Linked DNA regions of Homo sapiens: regions 1, 2 and 4 are each reported to be linked to region 3. The links are microRNA targets in miRTarBase. Many come from high-throughput screens and were not tested one by one. Region 3 holds a microRNA gene; each other region holds the end of a gene's coding sequence.
The links. The annotated mature microRNA hsa-miR-8076 reads UAUAUGGACUUUUCUGAUACAAUG and lies in region 3 at 1,265-1,288, opposite strand. An mRNA with a match to its seed (bases 2 to 7 or 8) in the 3' UTR can be bound and repressed. Matches are read on the target gene's strand: a 7mer-m8 pairs with bases 2 to 8, a 7mer-A1 pairs with bases 2 to 7 and ends in A, and an 8mer does both.

Region 1 (4,058 bases), not on the chromosome of region 3:
AAAGAGGGTGACATACACACACTGTTAGCAGCAAAACGCAAAGGTGTCCAATGATTAAAATGAAATTGAGTGATAGGGAGAAATGGAGAAGATTCCAGAGTGTCAGGGATAGTAACTGAAAATAATTATATAGCACCCATTATTACTAATTTAAGATATATAAGCATCACTGCGGATTTATATAGTGTCTATGCTATTAGTTTAGTAAATATAAATATTTATGAGGGCTTTCAAAATATTTTAAATGACATATACATTCTAATATAAATATTACACTCCAGATTCATACAACTGAGTTGATGTTACATTTAAAGTAGTAGATTTGGGGTTGTATATGGAGTAACTTTTGCAGACCATTTTCTGAACTTTGATCATTCAGCTAAGTAAAGGCCAAAAAACACAGGAAGCATCTTATTGGGAACTTTGGCAGCAAACATGTTTTTATCTATGTATTTATGCATTATACAAAGATACACTTATTCATTTGTATAAATGAATTTAAAGTACTCCATAGGAGATCTTACACTTAAAACACTTTTCTGTCTTCTTATCTGCTTCTTTGAGATCAAGTCTATATGGGAGGCTTCTTCCTTAGAGGTGTGTGTTTAAAAATAGTCTCACGTTTCCCATTCAGGCTAAGTGGCTCTTTTAAGATTCCTAATCTTGAGGTTACAATCTTCACATTGAGACACTGATACACACACATACTTTAATAAAAACAGCAAATGGTCTTATATCACCTACTTTTAGCAGTGTGCTTTTAAAACAGGTTTGTTCCCAGCATTACAGAAAATAATCTCCAAACACATGCATTACTTTCTACTCAGGGAAGGATGTTACATCTAATGACTGTATAGAGTGATTTTGTAAATTAGTCTTATGCGCGTGTAAACTAAATGGGCTGCCCAACTTAACCCCAATGGTTAAAGGAAAGTAGTCTCGGCACTATGACATCACAGTTACACCTGTGCTCTCAGGTACAGGGCGAAAGTGAGAGCGAGAGCGCACGAGAGAGTTCAACCTGAGAGAGCTTTATAATTTCAAGCCTAGGCTGTCATTCACCTTTGCTTCATTTCTCCAAAACAAGCTCCTAATTTAGCTACCTGAAGAGACTGCTGCAGCAGTACAGTGAAAGCAGCCTTTTTTTGAAATAGGGTCTCACTCTGTTGCCCAGGCTGGAGTGCAGTGGTGTGATCTGTGCTCACTGCAACCTCAACCTCCCAGGTTCAAGTGAACCTCCCACCTCAGCCTTCTGAGTAGCTGGGACTACAGGTATGTACCACCACACCCAGCTAATTTTTTTTGTAGAGATGGGGTTTAGCCATGTTGCCCAGGCTGGTCTTGAACTCCTGGGCTTAAGCAATCCACCCACCTTGGCCCCCCAAAGTGCTGTGATTACATGTGTGAGCCACTGTGTCCAGTCGACAGTAGCCTTTTTACTGTGATGTCAATAAACCAACATCTGAAGATGACAGGAACTGGATTCAGAGTCTGTGTAAATTTTCTCAATGAGTGACCGAGCATGTAAATTTAACTCAAATGAAATTACTACAATAATTGCTTTAAAAACATATTTAGGAAAATGAGGTGACCCTAGATGAGCTTATTTATATGTCTCCTCTAACAGAAATCACCTCATGGTAAGAGTTGCTTCTTTTGGCTCAGTTCACCTGAGAACAACTTCATTTGGAACTTTTCTTAGCCATTTAACGTAACAGGAGACTGACTCAAAGTTGGTTCTAGTGGATGAAGCAAAATAGACATGACCAGCATGGCCAATCAATGAGCTTCATTCAACGGAGCGTCCTGGCCAAGTGCCACAGCCACGCTGGCCAGACACACTGACCAGTTACGCATTTCCCACCAGCCAAATGCCACTGTTTACTAAACCATGATTTCAGTAGGAAAAAGAGCTCTGGAATCAAGGCCCTCACTGCAGTACCTGGGTGGGGTGTCCATGGCCTGGCCTGTAGTAAACCCTCTGCCTTCCACTGTGTTCACGTTCGCAGCTCTGGCACTGGGGCATCTGGCACTTTTTTAAAAGAGATGTCTCTGCCTCTAGATGAACAATCTGGAACTTCAGAATACAGATCAAAGAATGAAGCAGATCTTTCAGTGGCCTCATCCTGTGGCACCTGCCCAGCCATTTAACTCCCCTGTCCTCCCACCCTACATAAAGTGTTTCCCACACCAGAGTGTGCACAACATGGTGACTCCAAATCCCAAGGAAGTTGAGTTTAGCTGGAGGTTAACCCCGTGCTCAGAAACCCATCTGTTATCTTTCCAGCTTCAGGTTTCAGAGCAGTTTATAAATGGCATAATACAAGGGTAATGTGAGTAAAATCTGAGAGTTTTGTTCATTATCAAGTTATCCACACAGTGCCCAATTAAGTAAGGTGATCTAGTGGAGTAATACTTCTGGCCTGGGAGAAAAATAAAACCAGTCAAATCACACCTTTCTCTAAAATGTCCCATTAAAAAAATATGGAATAGGCCGGGCGCGGTGGCTCACGCCTGTAATCCCAGCACTCTGGGAGGCCAAGGTGGGCGGATCACGAGGTCAGGAGATCGAGACCATCCTGGCTAACACAGTGAAACCCCATCTCTACTAAAAATACAAAAAAATTAGCTGGGCGCGGTGGCAGGTGCCTGTAGTCCCAGCTACTCGGGAGGCTGAGGCAGGAGAGTGGCGTGAATCCAGGAGGTGGAGTTTGCAGTGAGCTGAGAATGTGCCACTACACTCCAGCCTGGGCGACAGAGTGAAACTCCATCTCAAAAAAAAAAAAAATTATATGTATGTGTGTATGTATATATATGTATATATATATATATATGTATGTATGTATGTGTGTGTGTGTGTGTGTGTGTGTGTGTGTATATATGGAATAAAGTTTGAGATTCCCTGCTTTTTCATGTTACCTTAGCCTCAATTTTAAACTTACATTGTTTGTTAAAATTATCAAATGGACAACCTCATTGCTATGGAACAAAAAAGACTGTGAGGAAAAAGAATCATAACTTGGAAAAAAATAAGTGAAAAGGCATTGAGAGATTGCTAAGATTTGTTAAGTTAAAACAATAATATATCTAGAAAAGACTGTGAAAATATATATCTCAAAAGAGAACAAGGCATAGTCAGAAGGCTCAGTAAAACAATTACTTTAAAAGCTGACTAATAAAAAGGGTAAGTGAAAGAACTCTTCCATCCTTGACCCTTCCTCACTTCCTCCCTCCGACTCCACCAGTCTGGATGCACTAAAGCAGAATAACCTAAAAGCCATGAAAAAGTGCTGGTATTTTTCAGGATCTCTTCAAGACACCTTCCGTCTTGGTAACCTGAATTCTCTCTCTGATCAAGGCAGCTGATGGACTTTCAATGTATTTGGAGATGCCGGTTCAAAAACGTCATCATCATCTTCTGCTCCTTCTTCTATCGGTTTCATCTTGGCAGAGGCTCGCTGGTGTGGGGATGACACATCTGTGGAAAGATACAGGAGGGAAAACCACTGAATGCACAATCTACCCAGACCCTGGTGTGATATATCAATTATAAATTCCAACTGGAAAATAAAACTGTAGGAATCTATCACTAGCAGCACCAAGAACACAATTTCCATAAACCATTCTATTTCAATCCAGCATCTCAATAAAATAACCAAGTCAAGAAGAGACTCTCAGTCAGGAGCACAGATGAGGGACAGATTCCACCGCATGTGCTTGGATGATCTGAGCTTCTCAAATATATTCAGTTCCCAGGGGTTTGCCCCACAGTCTGCTTAGGACTCAGAACGCATGTTCCTACATTAATATCATACATGGGGGCTTGAGTCTCATATTAGCCCTTGAAAGTTGATTTAACTCCTAATTTCCCCAAAGAATACTTCTATTCCAAAATTATGGAACCTAATCACCATCTGTAATATCACCTAAAACATTTCTTGCCTCCACCATGGAGTCCAGCCACCCACTGGGCTTACACGCAAAGGAGACAGGGGAAGAGGAAGAAAGGCCAGGCATTCAGGAGGGACAAGCCAAGTAGAGGAAACGCAATCCCAGGC
Region 2 (4,058 bases), not on the chromosome of region 3:
GATCCACGCAGGGAAGTGGTTAAGACATGACGGCGCATCCACACACTGGAAAGCTGTGCATCATTGAAAATGACGGCAGCGAATAGTGGCAACACGTAGACTATCAACCCTTCATAAGCGTGCCATCACATTTGGATCAACAGGTAAAATTCATTTGCCCTCCCAGAACACGTACTCTTGTGGAAATGGAACACGAAGCTGATTGGATCATCAGGCAGTGTAGAGGCCATCTTGCTGTTAGGAAGAGATAAAATCTCAGAATAAAGCCCAGACTGTGCTAAACTTTGCTTTTTGAGGATATAAGAGTGCATAGAGGGGAGCCGTAAACAGCTCTACTGCTTGGAACATGGTTCCAAACGGGGATGGAGCAAAAAGTGGGACAATGGTTTTGAGAGTGAAAGACATTGCTATACTTATTGTCATCTTTTTAGTAGCTAAGTGTCCTTTTATCTCTTCAAACATGCCACAAAAATTATAGGACTCGAAAGTGTGTTGTGAACACAAAGGATATTGAAATCATTGGCACAGAGAAATAATGACACAGAAAGACAGTTTGATGTTATATAAAAGATGCCACTTGTAAAGCAGCAGGTACAATATAATCCCATTCTTGTAATAAAATTGAAAACTTAATTTAGTTAATTTTAAGCCATGAATATAAAGATCATTTGGAGTATGCCATTGAGGAATATTAAAAAGATGCATCATTTTAATTACACAGTTTAGTCTCTCTAAATAGTCCCACATCGACAAAAAAAAATAAGTGTATTATCAGTTGGAAAATATAACACTTTTTATAAGGAAATGCAGAGAAAATCCTATTCTTTTTATGAAAAGGATATGCAGGCAGAGAAAACTAATTGGAGGACAGGGATAAAAATTGGGATGTACAGTGCTTAGATGGGAGTAGGGGTAATTCTTATTTTTCTTCATCTTATTGTGTTTTTTTTCAAACTGCCATAATAAACATGTACTTCATGTTGAAAAAATTAATAAAAGTTATAGTTTTAAAAACATGAAGGGCCACACTCATGCATGCATATGCACACACACACACACACACACACACACACTCCAACCCAACCCAAAGTGGTGCAAGACTATATATTCATATACTTTCTGTCAGTGCCGGCAAATGCTCTTGCCACCTCGCTGCATTCATTCAGTTTTCTTGGGGATAAACAGTCTCTGAAATTGTAGAATCTTCTCCCATACAAACACAGGAAATCCCTGCAGGCTCTTCACCTCCCCAGTTCTGTTAGGAGGTAGGCAGCTGCTATGTAGCATTATTCTTCATGGCCAGAGGTAGTACCAAGATAGGGATTCAGCTGCTCTGTTCTTCCACTCTGCAAATCTTCTGCAAGCACGTGAGCAGGCCAGGGAGGGGCTGCCGCCATTTGGTGGTGAAGACACTCTGCTTGTGAAGGGCAACAAGTCAGAGGTCTCTAAGGGCCCCCTCGGCCCTGTCTGTCTGGCCCATCGTGGGCTTGTTCTTCACTAATTGTCTCTCACTGCTGACAGAGCCCACGAGTGTCTTTATGCGTGACAGATTCCTTGCAAATGGTGAATGGCGGAAAGATGACCCAGCTAATCATCAGACCTGCTTCTAAAATGCCATCTAGTCAGACGCAGCAGAGCCCAGCTCTACTCACTCATCCATGAATGTGACTCTGAGCTGTGAGAACAAAAGCCAAAGCAACTCTCTATTAGGAAACCCAGGGGGAAGACAGCAATGTAATAAGTCCCAGGTTCAAAATGACAAGTGATTCACTGAAGATGCCACAGCAGTACAGTCTATCACTGGGCACAGTGATATGGCCAAAAGCATGAGAATTTTATAAGATAATGAATTATTGGCTGGGCTACAAAATGAAAAATTTGAACTGATAAGGCCAGTAGACTATCCTTTTGAACCGAATTCACTGGAAGAATAAACTGTGGCATAGCAGCTCTTTTTTAGTAACAGGAATATGGTTACAAGATGCCTGAAAGGATGTTATCCACACACTATTGTCATCTTTTTAAGTACCCACTTCGTGCTCAATTCTACCATTCCATAAATTTATTCTTGGAATGGAGAGAAATAAAAAACATGATTTTTTTCTCCCTTTTGAAAAATCCTGAGTTATGTTAGAATTAGGAAACAGATTCCGTAATTATTAAGAAGGATAGATCACAGACTGGCCCCATTGTAAAGTTTATAAAATCAAATCCCATTTTAAAGCTTAGTAAGAAATGTGGCAATAGTAGCTCCTCCCACAGTGCCCTCAGCTTTCAGCCACTATTCAGCTTTGCCTGTGGTCTAACCATACCTTCAGCCACAGTGGCGGCAAATTAACAGCTACCATTTCCTGAAAGCTGACAATGAGCTGCATCTGGATGTGCTGTTGGCGGACATTATTGCTTTAATCATCACAAAGACCTCAGAGGTGAGTACAATCATTTCCCCATTCTGCCAATGAGGAAACTGAGGTGTAGAGAGGGTAAGTAACTTGTCCAAGGCCATACACCTAGTAGGCGGGGAGCAGGATTCAAGCTTCTTCAATGAGCATGCAAGAGAGAAGGGGAGGAGCCCTGTGGAGCAGTTGGAAAGGCTCAGGAGCCGGCACCCAACCTCATTCACCCTGGGCCAATCACTCAATCTCTGTACAGAAGGAGGTGAACCACCTTGCCCACTGCCCCACAGCATTGCTGAGAGGTCCAAATGAGATCACATACAGGAAAAGCCGTGAAAACAGTAAAGCATTCTATAAACACCATGTGCTATTGATAAAAGGACAGAAGACTAAATCATACTCCTTAGGAGCACAACACTTCAGTCATTCTGGCTTCAATGGAAAGACCACACCCCCTCTCGTCCCCTGACTTAATGCTTTCAATAAACAGCACAGGATTTTCTCGAGCGATCTTTTAAAGATGAAGGGCTCGGGTATGCATGCTGGTCCTTGAACTGGTCTTTGCAGGGAGCTTTAGTGTCTTACAATATTTAATACAGACATCCTGCCTGAGCTATTTATCCTGACTTGGGAAAGTAACCATTTCACTGTTACTATTAATTCTGTTCCAAAAAGAAAAAAAAGACTATTGTAATTTTACACCCTTAATCTATGCAACACAGGAATGAGAAAGAAAAAAAAAAACCCAACACGGTACTTTCTCATGAGTGAGGCACATTATATATAGTAATTCGCATTTTATTATTTTATCATTATGAATAGTAAAGTCCACAGTTCAGTCCTCAGACAACATTCAGGTAAATGTTTTACATATGAGACACCTGCCTGTAATGTGATGACATGAGATATATATATGGATATATATATATATGGATATATATTTTGAACCACTGTGATTTACTAGTCTATTAAAATGCCATTACACATTTAAAAACTGAACAATTACAACAATGCAATCTTCAAGCAATTAAAAACAAAGAATTGTTGAGCCAACATGGGAGATCTGCTGAGTAATCTGGCCTTTCAAGTAATGTCTAGTGGAAACCCTGTTTTCTCCTTCCATCTGAAGATCATCAAAAATAAAAAACAAACCTACACAAAAAACCACCTGCTCTGAGTGAAAGTCAGGATTCAGCCCACATGACTCAGGGACACACTCCCCAGCGGTTGCTGGAGGCACCATCACTCCAACATGTGCAGGAGCAGCGAGGGGTCCACCTCCACAGCCCGCAGCCCGTTGTGCAGGCTCTGGAAGGTGGCCTGCTTCCCGAAGCGCTGCCGCCAACGGATGAAGGCCTCCACCACCTGCGACTGCACGTTGTGGGGGTGGTTGGCCTTACAGCGGTAGATATCCGTCTGGGACAGTCCCAGAGACAGCACCATGGGCTCCCACTCAGGGCCCAGCCTCTGGGCCAGCTGGTTAATCTGCCGGTCTGATGGGGAGCTGTTGAGGATGTGCGAGGGGATCCCAGTCAATCTGTCACCTGAGGAGGAAAAAGACACCCCGGTGAAATGAGCAAGGCAACAAACACATCATTTGGGGGCAGAAATGAGAATCGTGGGGAGAAGAAGGCAATGCTTCCAAATGGCAGAGCCAATTGG
Region 3 (4,068 bases):
TAATTTAGTCCTTTGATAAGCATAAGAAATCAATGCCTTAGTAACTAACAGTCCTTCACCATCGTGAGAAATGATGGATGGTTTAGCTGGTACACTCGACCTAAATTTCTTAATAGAACTCAGAGATAGCAGAAACCTCTTGTTAAGTATGGGAAAAAGTCTACTCCAACTTCTCTGCTTGGGTGGAATACAAGGACTTTTATTCATTCTACATGAGAATCCCAGAGTAAAAACTTGCTGGATGTGCTAACAAGCCTGAGAGCAAAGCAAGGTTTTCAGGGGTGGGGGGAATGCAGCTATGATCAGGTATGAGGCTGAGCCAGGAGGAAGAGACCTCTTCACGCAGCAACAAGGTACAGGATGTTCAGAATGCCAGAAAATTATTTCACATTATCATTTGGGAGTCTAAGACATATGATATGTGAACTAATTAATGAGCTGAGCACTGGGCCAGGTCACACTTGAAAAGGTCTGCGCCTAACAGCATCTGACATAAGGAAGGCAGGTCCTGAAGGCAATGCTAGACAAAGGGTCATTATCATTAAATCCATCAAGGGAAAGTTGAGAGTAGCATCCAGGAAAACACTGCCGAGGACTGGAAACCAACACACAGACAATCCTGTGTCAGAAATGTAGGGAGTACAGAAACATGAAAAAGGAAAAACTAGGGGGGAACAAACTAAAGTTTCTGAAGTAAGCGATATAATGATACTTTTTGGAAAGAACTCTAGTGGTGGTGTGGAGGGAGATCTGGACAGGAAGACTGAGGTAGAAATCCATGTTGCAAGAGTCTAAACCAGAGAAGACAAATGCCTAAAATAAAATATAATGTGGAGAAACTGTGGATTTACAAGACATGTCTGCGATAGATTAAAAGAATTTAATGCAAATTTTGCATGTGTATTGATTTTCCCAGGACCTGATCTTCTCTAGGTGAACAGTCAAAATTAAATTTCTCAAATCATATTTAGGATTAGAACCTTAAATAGTCAAGATTCCACTAAGATACCTAACATCGTGATAGTCAGTCAGAAAGAGCCAGCCATCTTTCAAAAATCCTAGTTATAAAATTCCTCCTTTTTTCTTCCATTGCAGCCTATGAAGTCCTTCCACATGTTATGCAATTTAATTCCCAAATGACTCATAATTGTTTTAATGGGTGAGAAAATTGAGGCTCAGAAAGATGTGGTAATGTTTCCAAGATCAAGCATCTCTAAATGGTAGATCCAGGACTCAAAACCAAAGTCCAGGTCTCTTTCCACTACATTGTATCAGAAAAGTCCATATAAGACTTAGTAGCTCTCACAGGAGAACTCTAGACCAGACGTGTGGATAGGTTATTATCAACTTGTGTGCCAGGAGCTGTGATAAATAAGTAAAACACAGACAGCTCTTAAGGAACTTAGAGCTTTGTAAGGGAGTTGAACAAGTAAACCATTTCTGTTCTATAAACCCAGATATGCACTATTTAAAAATTATTTTGCCCATTTTTTTGACTTTTAGAAAATTATTTTTAGTTTTGTTGAAGTACATGCCCATAACTTAAAAAGTCAAGTAATGCTAAAAGACTTGTCTTTTAAAATACTCAACTTTTCCCTGCTTAACAGCCTTCTCTATCTCTCCAGAAGAATCACTTTTAGCTTTTAATCTTTTTTCTTCTGATATTTACCTCCATATATCTAAACAATATGGATATACTGCTCTCTCTAGCTACTTTTAGACAGTGTTTATTATGGGAAGATGAAGAATGTTAAATCTCTATCACCACTTGCTATCTCTCCGCCCTTGCAATATAATCAAAGCACAAAAAAACTATAGTGAAGTCCATGCTTACTATTTTTAGTATACTGCCTTAATAACACTCATTCCTGAGTTAAGAATGTATTATTTTATTTCCTTCTTGAACAACTCGCTTTTCTAAAACTAATACCTCATTTATTTTCACTTTTTAACTTTCTGGAATCTCCTGATAAATATTCCCACATCTTGTCATAGTTCTATAAATTCCACTCAGTTCAATTTTCTACATGCATCTATCAGATAATCTATTATTTAACATTTTTAACTTTCTTGGAGGTGAAAATTCTCCTTTCCTTGCTTCAGTATAATTGTTCTCTGCATGGCTGCCCAAGTGTCATCCTAGGCATTACCTTTACCTTATTTCTATTTTGAATCTCCTATTTCCTGGACCATATGTAGTCCTTTTTCTTTGCTAACTCCATCATTTTTATGGAGCCCACCTTCCTACAGCTTTCTGGGAACAGGGAGTATAAGATCTATTTTGGCCCAGCATGGTGGCTCATGCCTGTAATCCCAGCACTTTGGGAGGCAGAGGCAGGTGGATCACCTGAGGTCAGGAGTTCGAGACCAGCCTGACCAATATGATGAAACCCCATCTCTACTAAAAATACAAAAATTGGCTGGGTGTGGTAGCAGGCACCTGTAATCCCAGCTACTCAGGAGGCTGAGGCAGGAGAATCACTTGAACCCAGAAGACGGAGGTTATAGTAAGCCAAGATCGTACCATTGCACTATAGCCTGGGCAACAAGAGCAAAACTCCATCTCAAAAAAAAAAAAAAAAAAAAAAAAAAAGATCTATTTTATAACATCCTGCTCTTTCCATTCTACTATAAAAATTAATTATTTAAATGTTTACCTAAGTTTAATACTTTTAAAAGTATACATATTATCTTTACTTACATCTTGATTCTGATTTAGAAGACCTCAGAGACTTCTTCCCATCACTCTTTGATGTAACTGATTTCTCCCCATCAGTATCCTGATCATCTGGTTCCTTCATTTCCTCTGTAAGTACAAAATGGGGATGAGATATGGATAAAGCTGTAAAATTGAAACTAACAGATTTCCCCCTAACATATTTCATTAGCACCAAACACCATGTGTGTCAATAATCCTTGTTTGCACAGGATCCAGGATGACCCACCAGTAGGAGGGTGCAACTACCACCAGAGACCTCTGACCTCTGCAAGACAGCTAATTATAATCACAGATTCTCTTTCTCTAGGTAAATTGTCATTGTGGTGCACTTTGGTTTTCCAGAGGTCCACTACCAAAGTTCATCTTTTCCCCAGATGCTTCACCATTAAAATTAACTTTCTGCCATCCTACCTTTGGTCCATCCCTCCCTCTTTCTCTATTTTCAAATTCCCTTGGAGTTACTAATCAATTTCAGTTTTTAAAATATTTTTTGAGCACACCTGCAGTGTATCAAGTCTTATGTTGGGTACTAAATTACAAACCTGGAGAAGAGAAATATGGTCCCTAACTTTATGGAGCTTGTTTATAAAGATAGATATTAAACAAGCAATTAAAAATAATGAGTGCTACAAAAAGGAAAATGGTACTGTGGGCATGTATAGCAAGAAGCCTAAAACATGATGGGGGGTTAGAGAAGAGGTGTTTGAGACATGGATGATGGTCAGGAGTTGGCCAGGCAAAGAATGTGAAAGATACATTAGGCACATCAAAGAGGGCTGCATCTTTAAAGGGCTGCAAGCAGTCTATTGGCCAGAGTGGGAGAGTAAAATGGATATTGAAGAGAAGGTGGGTACCATATCATAAAGTTGTCTCTAAGCTTTGCTAAGAAGTTTATACCTTATTTCCTTGACAACTGAAAACCATTAAAGGGTTTTAAAGAGGGGAGCGACACAACAGGTTTTCTCTGCCCTCTGTCTATAATGCAGCTTTTCATATATTTGAAAACACCTTCCTTCTAAGTCTTCACTTCTCTATACTAAACACCCTATGTTTCCTCAACATTCTTCTACGATATGCCTGGCAAGCAGAATGGAACACTAGTTCTATTTGGATCAGATTTATAGTTAGATTAGGGTTTGAATCCCAGTACTGACATATAACTAGCTAACTAAACTTTATATGAATTCCCCAACTGTAATGGGAATGAAGAAAAAACTTTTTACAAGCCTGCTATGAGGGTTACTTAAACTGCCACACTGTTATATCTTCCTGGTCTCTGAAGATAGACTGGTATGCCTAAAGCAGATATGGTACACTACACGATCAAAGGACAAAGGAGAGTGTAGTAT
Region 4 (4,058 bases), not on the chromosome of region 3:
AGGAATATATTTATATATTTCCTCTAATTTCATATAGATCAGGGGAGCCTGTTGAGGAGTGTCAAATACTAATGGCTTATTCTCCTTGGATTTCAGATTCAAGGCCTCTTCCAGATGTAGCCCTGACTGGGAAGTGCACTCGTGAGTGTGATGAGTATGGCCACTCAGACTCCTGCTGGATGCCGGTCCGCACTTCTCCGGAGAGGAAGAAGAGCCAGCCTAAACTGTCCACTTTCATGCCTGTTGATGAACGAGGAAGCCAGGAAAAGCTGGCCAATGGGGAGGCCGCCATCATGGGTGACCGCAACAGAAACCTCCTGAACAAAAAGTTGACCTCATCCTATGAGACCTTCAGTGCAGCTAGTTTCAGCAAAAATGAGGAAGCCAACCCTGAGGATATTCCCCTTACAAAAACAGGGGAATATAAGCCATCTCCTGTCAATACTCTCACTAGAAGAGAAGTTTACCTGTAGGCTATAAAGGAGCAACAGCAAAGTTCTTTACATGTATGAAAAGGAGAATAAGGGGCAAAAACCTTACAAAGCAAAACGTTTAATCACAAAGAGGGGGCTACCAAAGAGACAAAGCTTTGCCTGCCACTTCTGCCTCCAGATCAGGCCTTTAGTGATACTGTTAGCCTGATTCTACTGTACAATGTAGAAACCATCCTTGTTACTTGCATGTCTAACCCCTTCACTGATTCCCAACACTCACTTTCTCTTCCCCACCCCTCTCCAAAAAAAAAAAAACAAAAAGAAAAGAAAAAAAAAGGGGGATAGTTGCAAGTTTCTTTCACAGTAACTGTACGAAGCCTGATTAGCAGAACACAACACACCCTCATTATCCCTAAGCTGAAGCATGATTTTAGTCACTTTGATTTTGTTCGAGTGTCATCTGGCTGGTCAAAAATAAGCAGGACAGATAAAATGTATTTCAGACATACCATCAGAAAATGGTTTATCACCATCAAAGGCAATCCTTTGAAAGTGATAGAGTCCCTCTAAAGGTACAGTCCTTAGAAAGAGGGACTGTATTAAAAAGTATTTTGGGAATATCAAAGCTTTAATATTCCAACAAAGACTAAGAGAAAAACAATACTCAGTGGGTGATTGCAGTCCTAAATTGTCATATGTTGTTATTTTCAGGTCAAGAGCATCAACTTCAATTCCATACATTCACCAAATATTCTCAGTATACACACAGTCTTGATTACATGTATCAATTTCACCAGTTATGACTTCTAAAAATTATATATATTTTTTCAGAACAAGACCACTATTATTAACTAACTTGAACAATTGTATCATCCAAAGGCCAAAGATCATATGGCAGATCAGGGAAGTCATGAAGTTGATTTGGTCTTGACGTGGAAAACCATTAAACAACAAAAGCAACTGAACCCATGTATGCACAGAAACAATCAAACACTAGTTCATTTTATAGTGCCCAGGAAAATGTTCCTTCTTTTAAAATGGATTTTATTTGAAAGCGCAGAAAATGAAAACTAGTGAGATATATTTTTGGTATTATAATAGGCAATTGGTTGAGGTTCAAGTTTAGTTTCAGGTAATATTATCAGGGAAGATTCCATGTTTTAAAATAGTATTTATGGATCATGGGTAGGTTAAGAAAGATGCATTGGCATATAGTCTTGATAGTTAAGTCCACGATTATCATTTTAGAATCCAGGCTATGCTTGCTGCTCTTTTTATCCACATTTTAAATTACAATTGCATTTTTTACTTGTTCAGTGCACACTTTGATGCACCACAAGTGCATTAATTTTGAATCGTGTGCAATATAGAAATATTTTGAGACTCACAACATTGAAACAAGGTGACACCCTAGTTGACTTTATCACTAATGTGATTTGAACATTATTTAAACAAATCTAGACTGAACATGAAAGAAAGGAGTTTTGGGCAGTGACATTTTTCACAGAATGTATATCTCAAAGGTGAAAGCAGAGTTTTTCCAGTGCAATAAAAAGAAACAGAATATGCAGATTTTGAGCTACTCACTCTATAGAGGATAACCTAACACGGCTGAAAATTGAGCTGGGACATTCAGACGAAAGTGACAATCCATGGACAGAATAGGGAATAACAGGTGTGAAGAGAACAAACTTATCACTGAATGTTTGCAAGCTGGTTAAGGCATAGCCTTGATGGCTCTCTAGCAAACTGTAGAAACAATGTAGCTTTGGGTAGTTTCATGCTTTGCAGAATTTCTTAGACTATAAAGTGACACAGCCTGGAATATAGGTTGATAATTCACTATAGGTCTTCAAAATACTTATCTTTGAAAACCGCTTCTCTGTTTGGTGGGGTACAATTTGGGGGTCATTTCCTTATGCTCTTTCTTAAATGGAGTTTTCATTTTGATGTTAGTTTATGTATAATAGGTAGGATGCAAAAAGATATGTAATTGAAACAAAAAACATTGGACTAAAATATCAGTAATTGAACATGTTTATGTTTGATTATTATTTACACTATGGAAAGATGCAATTCTAGTACTTTGTTAGGAAACTGCATTAAAGCAGTTCTGCCTTGTATAATCTGTAAGTACCTATTAAGACAAAATACTTCTAAAGATACTTATGAAATGTATACACATTTTTTCTTGCACGTTACAAAGAAAATACTCAATTGCATAACACGGATGTTTGACAAACTTTTTTTTTTTTAATGCATTTCTTTCTTTCATGAGACATTGAAACCACTGATAGCTCATTTCACCCTATCTTAAACCCTTCTCTTGTCTATAAAACTAATACGGGTCACACCGGACCTTCGGATTAATTGGATCCACATTCCCCAATGATGTTTGCACCCCATTCAAGATAGCCATGCCATTGTCATTTAACTCGTGAACCTCTCTTTAAAACTAAAATGGATGTGAAAGAATAAAATTCAGTGTACTGTAAGTATTCACAGTAATTCTAGTAGAATTAGCTGTCATAACATGTTTATTATATAATGAGCTGGCATGACACAGAAATATATTTTGTGTTTGTATGACTTTTATTTTAAATAGGTTAAATCTGGTGCCACTCCATATATAGAGTGCTTTTGAAAAAAAATCAATAAAAAGAAACAAAAAAAATAAATGAGTGAATGCAAAATAAGCAACTGTGCCTTTTATACCTGTTGTTACGGTAAAAAAACGGTTGTTGGGTTTGGACAATGAGGGGAAATGGGCTATTCCCAACTTTTTTGATCCTGTATATTTGTCCATGTTTATTTTCTGAACATAATAAATAATATATTAAAAATTTGCCTTCTGACAAACTCAGATAATGGACCAGTCTTAAATATTGTTATGTCATAAAGCAAAGTTAAGGCATTAATATGGGCTGCTTAAATCTGACTAGAAGATGAAAGCGTTTATTGTAAGTGTAACACAGAGATACTATCAGGAGTGAAATCAGTCCATTTGGCAAGGTAAAATACTGATTTAGAGTTTTATTCTTTATTTCTTTTTTGTTGTGTTTCTTTCAGCTATGGTTTCATTTTGGTTGTACAGTATATAAACCATATTTGTTTTCTGTACACAAGACTCTCAAGTGAATTTTGCATGCATTATACATTAGGACACATTTATAAATTAATGAGTAACTATATAAATTTATGTGTATTAAAACGTCTGTAGCTTCAATCTAAAATCTACTGCTCTTTCTGAATCTCCAGATATCATTTCTGTATGGTTTCTGACTGGCCTGCTGCCTGAGTTTCAGAAAACAAGGGAGGCATTATTTTTATGGGAGGAGGAACTAAGATGGTACTGAGGATGTCTGACTGAAACACTACCCTAGGAAGCTGTCTTGTAGGAAAATAGAATAAAACACACAGACCAGAAGAAATTGTCAAGAAGCAAACAGCCATCCAAAAACAGTCATGAGAAATCTAAAGACCTAAATAATCTTAGGTATATGCTCTCAGTGAGAAATAAGAAAATGTGTCCTTAAGCAAAAATAAATAAATAAATAAATAAATAAATAAATAATAAAAAGTGAGCATGATCATGAATATAGTAAATCTTGTGAGTTGTGACCT

Region 1: the mRNA of POPDC1 is a reported target of hsa-miR-8076. Seed matches in the 3' UTR shown: 8mer at 2,878-2,885, 7mer-m8 at 2,483-2,489, 7mer-A1 at 573-579 and 8mer at 332-339.
Region 2: the mRNA of CRADD is a reported target of hsa-miR-8076. Seed matches in the 3' UTR shown: 8mer at 3,323-3,330 and 8mer at 3,307-3,314.
Region 4: the mRNA of PCDH7 is a reported target of hsa-miR-8076. Seed matches in the 3' UTR shown: 8mer at 3,057-3,064.

What each region holds. Positions count from the first base shown.
Region 1 is chr6:105,097,736-105,101,793 of GRCh38, forward strand. It overlaps POPDC1 (popeye domain cAMP effector 1), which reads right to left. Exons shown (of 8, transcript NM_001199563.2): 8 at 1-3,478. The coding sequence ends at 3,354. Among named protein-coding and RNA genes, the nearest start is that of POPDC1, 37 kb to the right of the region's middle.
Region 2 is chr12:93,849,852-93,853,909 of GRCh38, reverse strand. CRADD (CARD and death domain containing adaptor protein) reads right to left here. Exons shown (of 3, transcript NM_003805.5): 3 at 3,154-3,940. The coding sequence ends at 3,639. Among named protein-coding and RNA genes, the nearest start is that of CRADD-AS1, 110 kb to the right of the region's middle.
Region 3 is chr3:113,430,864-113,434,931 of GRCh38, forward strand. MIR8076 (microRNA 8076) reads right to left here and starts at 1,337; the gene lies at 1,255-1,337. It overlaps CFAP44 (cilia and flagella associated protein 44), which reads right to left. Exons shown (of 35, transcript NM_001164496.2): 2 at 2,702-2,806. The coding sequence starts at 2,801. SPICE1-CFAP44 (SPICE1-CFAP44 readthrough (NMD candidate)) reads right to left here. Exons shown (of 52, transcript NR_183050.1): 21 at 2,702-2,806. It overlaps CFAP44-AS1 (CFAP44 antisense RNA 1), which reads left to right. Exons shown (of 6, transcript NR_046728.1): 5 at 2,720-2,808; 6 at 2,929-3,129.
Region 4 is chr4:31,142,377-31,146,434 of GRCh38, forward strand. It overlaps PCDH7 (protocadherin 7), which reads left to right. Exons shown (of 3, transcript NM_001173523.2): 3 at 97-4,058. The coding sequence ends at 473. Among named protein-coding and RNA genes, the nearest start is that of LINC02497, 27 kb to the right of the region's middle.